Homo sapiens: one gene and its partner. The protein of the gene in region 1 purifies or fractionates together with the protein of each later gene. This does not show direct contact. Each region holds a gene or a part of one and is shown on either strand. Other genes may lie near its edges.

What was found. The genes of interacting proteins can lie anywhere in the genome.
Region 2: the proteins of UACA (region 1) and USP48 purify together in Homo sapiens (affinity purification with mass spectrometry; 2 studies listed by BioGRID, with this or other methods). This does not show direct contact.

What each region holds. Positions count from the first base shown.
Region 1 is NC_000015.10:70,760,538-70,767,925, reverse strand, and holds the start of UACA (uveal autoantigen with coiled-coil domains and ankyrin repeats), read left to right. Parts: upstream 1-4,367; 5' UTR 4,368-4,518; coding exon 4,519-4,596; intron 4,597-7,388. UniProt on the Homo sapiens protein: Regulates APAF1 expression and plays an important role in the regulation of stress-induced apoptosis. Promotes apoptosis by regulating three pathways, apoptosome up-regulation, LGALS3/galectin-3 down-regulation and NF-kappa-B inactivation.
Region 2 is NC_000001.11:21,780,150-21,788,017, forward strand, and holds the start of USP48 (ubiquitin carboxyl-terminal hydrolase 48), read right to left. Parts: upstream 3,001-7,868; 5' UTR 2,809-3,000; coding exon 2,675-2,808; intron 1-2,674.

The DNA of each region.
Region 1 (7,388 bases):
ACTGCCTCAGGTCTCTCATTTCCTGGGCTGCCTATGATTTCTGGGTAGAAGTGCCTTTCCTCATGACTCTGTGGCCACACGTGGTTCTGCCAGCCATTTGCTTTGGCATCTGAGAGAATGACTGATGTCATGGGCCCCTTCATGAAATTATTCACTGGCTTTGTTCACTGGGTCCCCAGGGCTACTCGGAGCAGCAAGAAGTTCTGAAAATGAAGAGGGAAGTCATTGGATATAGAATTCATAACTAAAGCTTGTCTGGAAGGAGATCTTTATGTTTGAAAAGGACTCATTTTATGTGCAAATTTTAGACTTTGTATGTCAATTCTTTTTTTTTTTTTGAGATGAAGTCTTGCTCTATCACCCAGGCTGGAGTGCAGTGGCGTTATTCTGGCTCGCTGCAACCTCTGCCTCCTGGGTTCAAGCGATTCTCCTGCCTCAGCCTCCCCAGTAGCTGGGATTACAGGCTTCCACCACCACGCCCAGCTAATTTTTGTATTTTAGTAGAGATGGGGTTTCACCATGTTCACCAGGCTGGTCTCAAACTCCTGACCTCAAGTGATCTGTCCACTTTGGCCTCCCAAAGTCCTGGAATTACAGTTGTGAGCCACCATGCCCGGCCTGTGTGTGGATTCTTTTTTTTATTGTTGTTGTTTTTGTTTTTGTTTTTTGTTTTTTTTTTTTTTTTTGAGATGGAGTCTTGCTCTGTCGCTCAGGCCGGAGTGCAGTGGCGCCATCTCGGCTCACTGCAAGCTCCACCTCCCAGGTTCACGCCATTCTCCTGCCTCAGCCTCCAGAGTAGCTGGGACTACAGGTGCCTGCCACCACGCCTGGCTAATTTTTTGTATTTTTAGTGGAGACGGGGTTTCACCATATTAGCCAGGATTGTCTCGATCTCCTGACCCCGTGATCCACCCGCCTCGGCCTTCCAAAGTGCTGGGATTACAGGTGTGAGCCACTGTGCCCGGCCCTCTGTGTGGATTCTTTATTCTTCTTCTGAGAAATCATATTTGTCATCGTTTTTGCCGTTATCATCATCTGAGTTATCAGTGAGCATCTGTCGACTGTGTTCTCTTCCCTGTTCTGGCAGGTCCCCTGGGTATCCTCTGCCCATCTGGTATTACTTCTCACCTGTTGGTATTCATTGAATGGATACTCAACCTTGGATAGCCTCCCTTCAGGCAAACTTATCTGTTGATCTTTTCCTTCCCTAAATACCATCTGCAATCTTACTACACGATTCAGTAAGCGATTGTCCAGTTAAACTGTATGTGTTAGCATACAGCTTACACATTTGTTATCTAATCCAGAACACAAGTTCCTTGACAGCAGGGATCAAAATAGGGGTGGTAAGCAGATCAACTTGCTCCATTTGTATTATTTGAGATTACCATGTGTATATATAATCTAGTAAAGTAATTTTAAAAAATGCATTACCCTTCCTGGTATATATTGTAAATAAATAAATATTGGAAAAAAAAAAGAAGTAAAACAAAAAAATATTTTATATAGGCTCAGTGTGATAACAAACAAAAGGTCATCTAGGTTTGATAAGTGCCCTTTGCTCTGAAGGGAAGATAAAAATAAATAATAGTGATAAGAGTTAACAAAATAAAACCCAACCTGTCTGGTTGAATGCTAATAATAGTGACTTTACTTCATATAGGCAGCTTCCAGATCAATGTAAAAAAGCTTTACTGAATATTCAGACCAGTGCTATTTACTTAGCTGCTCTCAAATGGGAATAAGCAGACATCAGCTATCAAGTTTCTAGGCTGGAAAAATCCATAAAGGCCACTGGACACAGACACCATGGGGACATCATCCAGACAGTTCATAAAAATAACTTGCCCAACATTTTTGGAACCTGATGCAAGCTATACTTGTGGTTCTGTCTGTTTCCTTTGCTTTATCCAGTAACAACAGAAAAGGAGGCCAGTCACCAGGACTATGATAACTTGGATGTTACAGGAGACAACCAGTACAACATAACACTGCAATTAATAACTCAAGAGCCAATTACTGAGACAGTGCTCTTGTAAGCAATTAACATTTAAGATTCAGTCAGAGGACTAGATGGTAAATGGGTGCTTATCTTAAGCCCAGAGAAAGGAGTTGATTGAGACACAAATATTTGAGCAGGACCATAGCCTCAGATCATTCCATCTGTGTTCACAATAGGGGGAATCCCAATCCTGTGTCACATAAATACATAGAACAAACAACCATAATTTGCTATAGTAGTCAATAAGAATGCATCAATTCATTCAGAAATATTTATTAAACACCTATAACATGCTAAGCATTCTAGGGAATTCAAATATATGTCAGTTATTCCCCAATTTTAAGTAAATTGAAGTCCAGTAATGAAATAAGGTTTGCTCAGCTCATATGTGTTAGTATCATATGAGAGGTATAATTGCTGTAACTATTTGGAGGATGGAGAGATCACTTCCAGTTACTTGATCAGGGAAGGTTCTATAGAGAGGAGGGCACTTGGAAGGGACATACACTTAAAAACAAACTTTTTGTTAAAGCATAACACACACATAAAAGAGAATATATTGCATACAGTACAGGCTCATTGAATTTTCACAATCTGAAAACACTAGATATGTAACCAGCACCCACAGAGAATAGTACAGTATTCCAGAAGCCCCCGACATCCCCTACCAATCACTCTTGGGGGAGTAGGATTTTCTGAGATGAATGTAGACAGACAGAAGATTATTGGGGGAGGGATCAGTATGCATAAAGATGTGGAAGTTGAAAGCCATGACCCATGTTTGGAGAATGGGCTGAAGAGTAATTCGCTTGGGGTGTTGGCTAGAGAACAGGGTCGCGTCCACGTTATACAGCTTTAAATGCAAAGAATTAGATTTTATTCGTTAGCTGCTGAAGGCTTTTGAGCAAGAGGAGTATTTTTGTAAGACTTATTGATGATGGCTGATAATTTATTGGTGATGGGACAATTAAGAGACTGAAGGTTGGGAGACTGGCTGGGAAGCTTCTGTAATAATAGTCCGGGTATGAGGTAATTTTGGCTCTGCAGTGGCAGTGAGAACAGAGTAACTGACCATACACAGACACTTTAAAGAGCCAACAAGAACTAAATGACTGGAGATCTAGAGGAAGGGGGAGGAATCAAAGAAAATTTTCTTCCAAAGATCTAATCAAGATGAAATTTAATAATATTTTTGGGTAGTTAGTTGTTATTTACTTGTTGTATAGGGTTAACACAGTCTTTGAATGCTGCCTCTCCAAGAAATTCTGAAAACTTTCTTACAGTATTTGAAGAAAACCTTGCGTTACTATAAAGAAACTCTAAAGAGAGCAACTGACCTTTCAGACAAAAAAGAGTCCTTTGTTAGTCAGAAAATGTGGACCGTTTGTCTTTTCAAATGGATGCATGCTACGATAAACGTTTTGCTGGGGGGAAAAATGACTCCAAAGAAGACTTTTGAAGATGTCACCCGAACAGCAAATTATTGGGTGCTGAGCACCTTCCTGTTTCTTCATCCTCTTAAATAATTTTTACTAACCCAGATTTCTAGGTAAGATGATTTAACTTCATCGTATACGTTTACATGTAATGTGTTTCTACAGAAAACAAAAAACCTTTTTGAAGAAAAAAGGGCGTAACTTTTTTTGACAACTTAAATCACTGGCTGTGGGAGTCATTTTTAATTGATGGCACCTCTTCTCCTCCCTCCCCGCCCCCATTCCGTCCCTTTGCTTCCAATACGGCGGATTCTTCACTCAACAAATAAACGAGCACGTAACTTGTACTGTAACTTACTATAACGTCTTTCAAGGTCTTTCTTAACTGTACGTTTTTCTGCACAATCAGCACCTTATTTCTTAGAGACTGTTTATTTCTGGAATTTTTGATGCGTGTGGTGGTTTCCAGGCACCAGGATTTGGTAGTAAAACAGGAGACTGAAAAGAAGTTGCTCCTGAAAGCTGTTCTGTGTGCAGGTAACCAAGAGTCATTTCTAAGACCAGACGGAAGGGAAGGAACTTTACTTGGTAAAGAGCGCGTGGGTGGAAAGAGGAGGGGAGTCCGGGAAGATGAGAGGTGGCAAAGGCGGGACCCCGTGCTCTCTCTAGATCTTAAGCTCCGGGTGGGCGGGCGCCGGTGGCCTGGAGCCCGGCCTGCGCGCATCTCCACGCCTCTGGCCGCCCACCTCCTCCGCCCCTTCCCGGGCTAAAGTTCCCAAACTTTTCCTCCAGCTGGGAGAGGAAGGGTGTTACTCAGTTTAAAAGGGAAGTCCCGCCCCATTCCCGCATTCCGATTGGTCGCGGTTTGCCACGCCCCCGCCAGGGCAGCGGGTCAATTGGCTACGGGAGGGGAGCCCCGCCTCAGGCCTGTCGACGTCTGCTGCCCGGGGCCCGCAGGTGGCAGGCAGGTGGGGCTGGTACAGCCCGCGCCGCCTCTGCTGCAGCCGCTGCCGTCTACTCCTTGCGCGCTGGCACTCCGCAGCCTTTAAGGTTCGCGCGGGGGCCAGGCAAGAGTTAGCCATGAAGAGCCTCAAGTCCCGCCTGAGGAGGCAGGACGTGCCCGGCCCCGCGTCGTCTGGCGCCGCCGCCGCCAGCGCGGTGAGTCCCGCGGTCCGGGCTGCGAGGCGCTCCGCTCCGGGAGCAGCGCAGCCCTCCTTTGCTGGCGAGTTCGCGCGCCGCCTTCCTCTGCTTTTCCTCTGCCAGTTCGGCTTCGGCGGCCCTGGCGACTCCTCCCTGAGGCCGGAGACTCCGTCAGCCCAGAGACCCCGGGGATCCTCCCCGCCGCCGCACCCGAGCCTCTACGGGTCTCTTCCCCACCCCTTTCTCCCAAGCCTCCGAACTTCTGGAAGAAACCTCAGTGGGGCGGTTCTGGCCCCCTCCTCCTAAATCCAAAGTTCCTCGATTGGCACCCCTACTCCGCTCTTTCCGTTGACCCCCCCTCGTCGCTCTCCTCTCCCGGCGCTCGCCCTGCTGCCCACGCCCGCTCGGCCGTGTTGGCTCCCCAGTCCCCGGGGCCGGGGCTCGCACCAGGTAGGGCAGGTGGGCAGGGCTGCGCACCCCGCGCCACCGTGCCCGGACTCCGGACCTTCCCCGGGTCTGAGACAGCGTCAAGCCCTGCCGGGCTGGTGGACGTCCCGTGCTGGCCGCTGTCGTTGTCACTGGGAAGTTTGATTCCCCAGCGAGGCAGAGGGAATCGGCTTAGTCGTAAAGACAAAACCCCACAGGGTGGTGACCCTAGAGGTGGTGAAGTTGGGAGGGGTGGTGGTGATGTGGGTTGTGTAAATCGCACCTGTGGGGCGGGATCCGTGCGGGGCTCTTTCGGTGCTGACCTGCAGCGCGGCCTCAGTGTGCGCGCCAAGGAGTAGTCGGGGCCTCTTTAGTTGGCAGGAGAACAGAAATCTTGAGAAACAGCCTGACCGCAGATGTTGTGATTTAGATAATTTGTCACGTTACAAGAATGGCGATATCATCAAAATTCTATATCATTAAAATAAGTGCCACTTACAAAGTCTTGGAAGAGTCGAACGTAAAGGAGTTGTTATGCTCCAACTGCACAGTTACCTAGTTGGGGTAATTAAAATGAACCTTTACAATTCAACGCAGATTTTACCAAATGATTATATTCTTTTTATCAGAATACTAATTAATCTGCTTCTGCTTTTTTGAGTTAATTCAGTTATGCCTTTCTCTCCACCTATATCGAGGATTATTTTACTTGGACATAAAGGAAATTGTGGAGGAACTACCTAGACTTAAATTCCTATTTCAAAAAAAGAGAGTAGATTCAGATGACGTAATTGATGTTCTTTGATAAAGCATGAAGTCGTTTTATAAGCTCATGGAAAACAGAGATTACTTTGTTTCACTTTTTTTTTTAAAAAAAGTAACTGGCAGAAATGTCATTTAGTGATATTGGAGTTCATTACAGTTAAGATTCTACTTCTGTAATGCAAGTTGTGTTTTTAGCCTTATAGAAGATACAAGTTTCTAGATTTATTAGCTTTGTTTTCCCTGGTTGTGTTTGATTTGCACTAAGGATGTAAATCCCACTTGGAGGTTTATATGCCTTAATTTTATCCAGTTTTCTAGAAATGCAGAGTATTTAGTAGGTATTATCAGCATGATAGTTTGCATTTTATACATTTGGAACATAAAGTGCATATCTCTGAGCTTAAATCTTTAGCACTCAATTGAGCGTTCTATTTTTCTCAAAATGACATAATAAAGATAAACATGATATTAACCTATTTATGTAGAAAAAGCAAACATTTCTGTTTAAATATTAGAATAAGTTCTGTACAATTTAAAAATAAAAGCGTAATGAGGAATAAAACTTAGAATGAATTCTGTAAAATTTTAAAATAAAACTGTAGTGATGAATAAAACCAAACCAAGCATTGATAGAATAAAACACATGTACAGGAGAAATAGACCCTTTCTGCTTTTCAATCTATAAACCATAATCCCAGATTTGGTCACATGTATATGTATTTATTGTATGATTGGGCCACCCTTTTTTTTTTTCTTTTTGCCTTTAAAAACAGTTATTTTTTGAATAGGTAATATAGCACATGGTTTAATATTGGAAAGGAATAAAAATATTTACAACAAAATATCGACACCGTGTTTCCCTAACCCCTGCTTCAGCCACCCTGCCCCCACTTCCTGAGGCCACTGATGATACAGTTGCTTGCATGTTCCTCCAGAGAGAGCTTAGCATATACAAGCAAATATGAATATAGTCACCCTTTATAGAAATGCTAGCACACTGTAGCTGCTGTTTCATATCTTGGACTTTTTTTTTTAAAACTGTAAATAGAGGCTCCCCATTCATATCTTTTGCTGTAATGTACAATTCTGTGATTAATATTCATATTTCAAGTGTGTGTCTGTACCTGTAGGATTAATTCCTAAAAGTGAATTGCTGGGTTAAAGGATATGTGCATTTGTAATTTTGAAGGATGTTGTCAAGTTTCCTTTCATGCATCATGGAACCAGCATATGAGAAATGTTTTCCAAGCTTTTAATAGAAGTCTGTTCAAAGTTTTTGACCTTTGCTAGCCTGATAGGTAAGAACAGTTTATCCTTTCCATTTTTCTTTTTCTGTTTTTTTTTTTTTTTTGAGACGGAGTCTCGCTCGGTCGCCAGGCTGGAGTGCAATGGGACCATCTTGGCTCATTGCAACCTCCGCCTCCCAGGTTCAAGTGATTCTCCTGCCTCAGCCTCCTGAGTAGCTGGGACTACAGGCGTGCACCACCACGCCAGGCTAATTTTTGTATTTTTAGTAGAGACAGGGTTTCACCATGTTGTCCAGGATGGTCTCAATCTCTTGACCTTGTGATCCACCCGCCTCGGCCTCCCAAAGTGCTGGGATTACAGGCGTGAGCCAC
Region 2 (7,868 bases), on another chromosome or scaffold:
TAATCAAAATGTCCCTCAACTGATGAATAGATATATAAAATGTGGTATTATCCATAAAATGGAATACTACTCAGCCGTAAGGAATAAAGTAGTGACACATGCGCAGCAGGGATAACCCTTGGAAACATTACGTTAAGTGAAACCAGACACAAATGGCCACGTACTGTATAATTCCATTGCTATGAAATATTAATAGAGAAATCCAGAGACAGAAAGTAGATTAGCAGTTGCCAGGGGCTGGGCGAGGGGGGAAAATGGGAAGTGACTAACAGATGCTCAGTTTCCTTTTAGGATAATGAAAAGTTCTGGAACCAGACAGTGGTGATGGTTGTACAACACTATAAAGGTACTGAAACCCACCGAATTGTGCACTTTAAAATGGTAAACACTGTCATATGTATTTCCCAGGTATTTTTTTAATGAAATGAAGTGCTGAAACATGCTACAACATGGATGACCCTTAAATACATAAGTAAAGGAAATCAGTCACAAAAGTCCACGTATTTTAGGATTCCATTTATATGAAATGTCCAGAATAGGGAAATTTAGAGGCGGAACATACAGGGCATACAGAGCCAAGATAAGATAATTTTTTTTTTTTTTTTTTTTTTGAGACTGAGTCTCGCCCTGTTGCCCAAGCTGGAGTGCAGTGGCGTGATCTCGGCTCACCGCAACCTCCACCTCCCGGGTTCCAGGGTTCTCCTGCCTCAGCCACCCCAGTAGCTGGGATTACAGGCGCCCGCCACCACCCCCGGCTAATTTTTGTATTTTTAGTAGAGACGGGGTTTCACCATGCTGGCCAGGCTGGTCTCGAACTCCTGACCTCGTGATCCGCCCATCTCGGCCTCCCAAAGTGCTGGGATTACAGGCATGAGCCACCGCACCCGGCCTATTCTTTTTTCTTTTAAAATTTTTATTTTAAAAATTTATTTTTTTAAATTTATCCAGCGTCTCACGACGCTGTCTCGAAAAAAAAAAAAGTATCGGCCTGGCGGGCGGTGGCTCACGCCTGTAATGCCAGCACTTTGGGAGGCCAAGGCGGTCAAATTATCTGAGGTCAGGAGTTCGAGACCAGCCTGACCAACATGGAGAAACCCTGTCTCTACTAAAAATACAAAAAATAAAAATAATAAAAAAAAATTAGCCGGGCATGATGGTGCATGCCTGTAATCCCAGCTATTCAGGAGGCTGAGGCAGGAGAATCGCTTGAACCAAGGAGGCAGAGGTTGCAGTGAGCCGAGATCACGCCATTGCACTCTAGCCTGGGCAATAAGAGCGAAACACCGTCTCAATAAATAAATAAATATCAGAAATTGGCCCAGCATGGTGGCTCACGCCTGTAATCCCAGAAGAGGTGGGCAGATCGCTTGAGCCCAGAGCTCGAGACCAGCCTGGCCAACATGGCGAAAACCCGTCTCCACTAAAAATACAAAACTGAGTCGGGCGTGGTGGCCCGTGCCTCTAATCCCAGCTACTCCGGAGGCCGAGGTGGGAGGATCGCTTGAGCCTGGGAAACGGAGGTTGCAGTGAGCCGAGCTCGTGACACTGCACTCCAGCCTGTGTGACAGAGTGAGACCCTGTCTCAAAAACCACCAGAACTATTAGTAGTTTACATTATTTGGTTAGTCTGGAAACTAATTACGTTGAGAAACTGACTGAAGCTTGATTATTTCTATTATACACAGACTTCAAACATTCCAGAACTTACTGTTAAAGTCAGATTTACCCTCCTTGTGAGACAGACGCCCAGAGCTTGGACTTATTCGTTTGCTTTATAGAAACTCCCTAACTTATTTCACTTCTCATACTAGACTTTAAGCTCCAAAGCCAGAGACCATGACTTCCATTCCTTCCGGATCCCCCAGCGGAATGTAAAAACTCCAGAAAGCATTTCCTAAATGCCTGCCGAAAGACGGCTACTGAGCATGCCCGGCTTGGCCAAGTCAATTTCAACAACATTCTGAAACAAAAACTATAGTTCCCGCGTTACAAGGTGGAAAAAAGGGAATAAACGGGAGCAAAGCCTAAGGATTCAATCTATATGAGGGGGTTAAGGAAAGGTAAAGTTCAAGGGCGGCGCAGACGTGAAGGACAGCACTATCACAGCTTAAACTTGGTACTCGGTAAACTGGTGTCGAACCAGAACGACCAAAGAAAGGCTTAAAAAAAATACTAGATTAACGAGTGAGGGAAGGCCAACGGGGGTGCAGGGTATCGATGACGTAGGCTGACCACAGTTTTTTCTAAAGCTGCCCTCTACAAAAATAATACTAAGATGATCAGGCCTTCGGTGTCAACACCAACAAGATACACTGTGATGAAGCTCACTTCCAAAAAGTTCCTTTTTACAAACGAAAGAGCCGTGCTGTGGCCAAGATACCCCAACCATCAACGCTTGCTAAGCTCTCAGCTCCTGCCTTCATCTCCACCGCCATCTTCTGGATGGGAACCCAAACCTTCCTAAAGTGCTTTGGCCAGCATCACCTCCGCGCACAGCCCGGGAAGCCTGCGTTTCCCAGGTCGCGCAGACGGCGCAAAGGGGGAAACTCCACCTCGCTCGGCTCCGCGCCTCCCAAATGCACGCAAAGGGCTGCCGTCTTCCTTTCCCCTACCCCGCCCGGGCTTTCCAAGGTCCGGCGCGAGGAGCCCGCGAGGCGCGGTGCGCGGGCCTCACCTGCACACGCCGCGAATGCAGGGCTCCAGCCAGATGCGGTAAGCGGTCTCGATGTGCTCCTGCGACACCTCCTCGGGCCGCACCGTCTCCGCCCAGCGCCAGGCCGCCTTCTCCAGCTGCAGCCGCGGGGCCATGGCCTTGGCCCCAGGAACGCCTCCCGAGCCAGACCGCCGCAGCCGCCGCCGCGGTCTGCACCGCCGCCCCAATGGGCTTCGCCACCTGCCAGCAAGGAGGACCTGGCGCTCCTTCAGGCAGCTGGCCAGTCAATCACCTGTGCGCGCCACTGCCGCCGCGCCCGCCCGCGCCCGACCCGCACGACCGGCCGCAAAGCGCCGCCGTCGACACCCGACACACCCCGCGCCCGCGGACGTTAAAGGTGGACTCCCCGCCGCGCTGAGCGCATGCGCGTTCCCAGCAGCCTCTGCGCCTCCCGCGCCCCTAACCCGACGGGCTGAGGTAGAGGAAGCGTACGTCCGAGGCGGTCTTGCCACGTCCTCACTGGCACTTCTGGAAAAGCAGCGTCTCAGCCCCCGTTCAGGGCGGCGCACTACGTACCACTACTCTAACAAACCAGTGCCTCGAAAGCTATTTCTTGCCTCCGGTACTTCCCTTTTAACCATGAAGTTTTCACGCTAGAGGCTACTCAACGCACACACAGGCCCGCCCAGACTGTGGAGCGGGACCTGTTTAGAGTAGAAACCGAGTCGCCAAAGAAACCAGTGTTGGCTCTTTAGAGGGAGATTTAACTTGAGCCTAGACCGGTTCCGAACCCCTTTCCCGAGCCCTCCTGACGTCATGGGACCTTCCGGCCTTTTCCCGTGCTAGGGTGGGACTACGTGTCCCGGCATGCCCTGCGTCCTGCCACTGACTGTGAGGCATGCTGGGATTTGTAGTCTTCGAGGTGGGAGTGCTCAGTGCGCCGCAGACTGTGCGGGCGGGGGTCCGAGGTGCCAGGGTGGAGTTTCTCTGGTGCGCAAGGTCATGTTTGCTGTTGGCTCCCTTCTCAAGACTGTTACCTCTATGCCAGGATTTTCTAGTTCCTCTCTAGCTCCTGGTTTAAAACATTTCCTTTCTGCGACTCCTGCCCCAGGACATAAAGAGTAGCTTTATGAGAATTGTTTTGCAAACTGTAAAGAACTCTACTAAAGTGAGGATATTTAAGAATTTTGAATTTGAATTAGAGCTCTGCCAGAATCTAAGCGCTAACTTCTGACTCAGCTGCTTGCCTGCTGGAAAACCTTAGGCTGAATTCTTTAGATAAACATTCACTGGGCCGAGCACCGTGGCTCAAGGATCCAATCCCAGCACTTTGGGAGGCCGAGGTGGGCGGATCACCTGAGGTCAGGAGTTCGAGGCCAGCCTGACCAAAATGGAGAAACCCCGTCTCTACTAAAAATACAAAATTAGCAAGGCGCGGTCGCGCATGCCTGTAATCCCAGCTAGTCGGGAGGCAGAGGCAGGAGAATCGCTTGAACCCGGGAGGCGGAGGTTGTGGTTAGCCGAGATAACGCCATTGCACTCCAGCCTGGGCAACAAGAGTAAAACTCCGTCTCAAAAAAAACAAAAAAATTCGCTGAAGGCAGAAGAAAGTAAGATGTGGTCCCTGCCCTTGGAAGTGGGTTAGGGAGTGAGCGGTAGAAATACAAAGATCCCCATCCCAGTCTTGGGAGGCTTCGGGGTACTTGAGAAAAGGCTTCCCAGAAGTAATTCCGAAGCCCGCTTTTAACGGGTGAGTTGGACTTATCCAGGATAGAAGAAAGACACCATTCCAGAAAAAAAGAAACCACAAGGAGCAAAGGCACAGAAGAGAAAAGCTTGGCGTGAGAGGGCCACAATTTCTGAGACAGGGACAGGTGAGAGTTATGGCTTGAAAGGAAGACCTTGCCGCCGGGCGCGGTGGCTCACGCCTGTAATCCCAGCACTTTGGGAGGCCAAGGCGGGCGGATCACGAGATCAGGAGATCGAGACCATCCTGGCTAACACGGTGAAACCCCCTCTCTACTAAAAATACAAAAAAAATAGCCGGGCGTAGTGGCGGGCGCCTGTAGTCCCAGCTACTCTGGAGGCTGAGGCAGGAGAAGGGCGGGAACCCAGGAGGCGGAGCTTACAGTGAGCGGAGATCGCGCCACTGCCCTCCGGCCTGGGCGACTGAGCGAGACTCTGTCTCCAAAAAAAAAACAAAAACAAAACAAAACAACAATAACAACAACAATAAAACAACAATAACAACAAAAAAAAAAACAAAAAAAGGAAGACCTTTATTCAAAGTACCCACTGAAGATATACAGCTGTTGAGTGCTATAATGGAGATTTGCATTTTGTATAGTGAGGCAGAGAAGACTTTTTTTTTTCCTGAGACGGAGTTTTGCTCTTGTTGCCCAGGCTGGAGTGCAATGGTGTGGTCTGGGCTCACTGCAACCTCCGCCTCCTGGGTTCAAGCGATTCTCCTGCCTCAACCTCCCAAGTAGCTAGGATTACAGGCTTTTGCCACCACGCCCGCCTAATTTTTTTGTATTTTTTAGTAGAGACGGGGTTTCACTATGTTGGTCAGGCTGGTCTCGAACTCCGGACTTCAGGTGATCCGCCCACCTCGGCCTCTCAAAGTGCTGGGATTACAGGTGTGAGCTACCGCGCCTGGCCTCCTCCCCTTTTTAGACCATATAGGGTAACTTCCTGACTTTGCCATGGCATTTGTAACCTGTCATGCACTGGTGGGCATGTCTTTTAGCATGCTAATGTATAATAATTAGCGTATAATAATTAGCATATAATAAGCAGTGAGGACGACCAGAGGTCAGTCTCATGGCCATCTTGGTTTTGGTGGGTTTTAACCAGCTTCTTTACTGCATTCTGTTTTCTCAGCAATGTCTTTATGACCTGTATCTTGTGTAGACCTCCTATCTCATCCTGTGTCTAAGAATGCCTTAGGCCAGGCATGGTGGCTCATGCCTGTAATCCCAGCACTTTAGGAGGCCAAGGTGGGCGGATCACGAGGTCAGGAGTTCGAGATGAGCCTGGCCAACATAGTGAAACCCTGGGTCTACTAAAAATACAAAAATTAGCCAGGCATGGTGGCGGGCACCTGTAATCCCAGCTACTCAGGAGGCTGAGGCAGGACAATTGCTTGAACAGGAGGCGGAGGTTACAGTGAGCCAAGATCGTGGCATTGCACTCCATCCCAGGCGACGGTGGGAAACTCAGGCAAAAAAAATGTCTTCACCTCCTGGGAATGCAGCCCAGTAGGTCTCAGCCTTATTTTACCCAGCCCCCATTCAAGATAGAGTCACTCTGGTTCAAACGCCTTGGACAGAATGAGGACTTGCTACAGCTTGATGATGTTGACCTGACCGGTATATCTTCACCTTTCTGATATTTGACCTTCAAGTCTGGTCACACCCCTTTCCTCAGTATCCACAGCTCCCTGTGTCATCCCTTGCTTCACTTAGCACATGATGAAATTGTGACTATCATTCACCATGAAGACACTACTATATGGCAGTTTTCTAAATTGGATAATTAAATAGAATTTCTACCAAATGAGATAGCAACACCAGAAGAAGGAACAGATTTAGAAAGAAGATGATTTCGGCCAGGCACGGTAGCTCACGCCTGTAATCCAGCACTTTGGGAGGCCGAGGTGGACAGATCATCTGAGGTCAGGAGTTCGAGACCAGCTTGGGCAACATGGTGAAACCCTGTCTCTACAAAAATACAAAAATTTGCCAGGTGTGGTGGTAGGCACCTGTAGTCCCAGCTACTCAGAAGGCTGAAGTGGAGGGATTGCTTGAGCCCAGGAGGTCGAGGTTGCAGTGAGCAGAGATCTCACCACTGCACTCCAGTCTGGGCGACAGAGGGAGACCCTGTCTCAAAAACAAACAAACAAAACCCAAATGTGCTAATTTGCTGTAATTTCTCTGAAGTTTAACAAACCCTCTCTTGACTCCCACATCCCCCTCCAGCTACTGTCCCATTTCTCTTTTTCCCTTTATAGCAAAACTCCTGGAAAGCATTTTCTGTACTCTTCTCCAGTTCTCCTCCTATTCCTCCTTAAACCTCCCAAATCAGGTTCTTGCCTCTATCACCTCCAAAACTGCTCGTATGAAGAATGCCAATGGCCTTCACCTTGTTAAATGCAGTGGTAAACTCATACTCTATTTATTTTACTAGACCTGTTAGCAGCAATTGACCCAGTTATTCACTCTTTCCTCTTAGAAACACTTTCTTCTCTTAAATCACAGGGTGCCACACTCTCCTGGTTTTCTCTTTACTGCTGGCCATCCCTTCCGGTGTCCTTTGCAGCTTCTTTCTCCTCTAACCTGGAAACTTGAGTGGCCTAGGGTTCAGTCCTTTGGACCTCTCCTTTAACTTTGTTTACTCCCTGGGGGATCTTGTTAGAAATGCTTGTTCCCCAGTGCCGTAAAGAAGTAGCACTTACGGCCGGGCGCGGTGGCTCACACCTGTAATCCCAGCACTTTGGGAGGCCGAGGCAGGCAGATCATGAGGTCAAGAGATCAAGACCATCCTGGCCAACATGGTGAAACCCCGTCTCTACAAAAAATACAAAAAATTAGCTGGGCATGGTGGCACACGCCTGTAGTCCTAGCTACTCAGGAGGCTGAGGCAGGAGAATCGCTTGAACCTGGGAGGCAGCGGTTGCAGGGAGCCAAGATTGTGCCACTGCACTCCAGCCTGGCGACAGAGCGAGACTTCATCTAAAAAAAAAACAACAAAAAACAAATAGCACTTGAACATAAATTTAACATCCTCAGCAAGGCCATTTTTACTTTCTGCAGAAAGGGTACACTCGCCAGCAGTTTTGCCAGTAGAGTACACTGAACAAACAGGACAGGGTCATTTATAACCTGAAGCGTCCACCCTACTGCTGTGTCTGACTTCCATTGGCTGGAACAGGACCTCACATTCTATATTTGTCCTGATTGGCTAGCAACTTAGAACTTTTTAAAAGAGGCAAAGGCTGGCTGGGTGCAGTGGCTCACACCTGTAATCCCAGCACTTTGGGAGGCTGAGGGGGGCGGATCACCTGAGGTCAGGAGTTCGAGACCAGCCTGACCAACATGGAGAAACCCTGCCTCTACTAAAAATGCAAAAAAAAATTAGCCGGGCGTGGTGGCGCATGTCTGTAATCCCAGCTATCGGGAGGCTGAGGCAGGAGAATCGCTTGAACCTGGGAGGT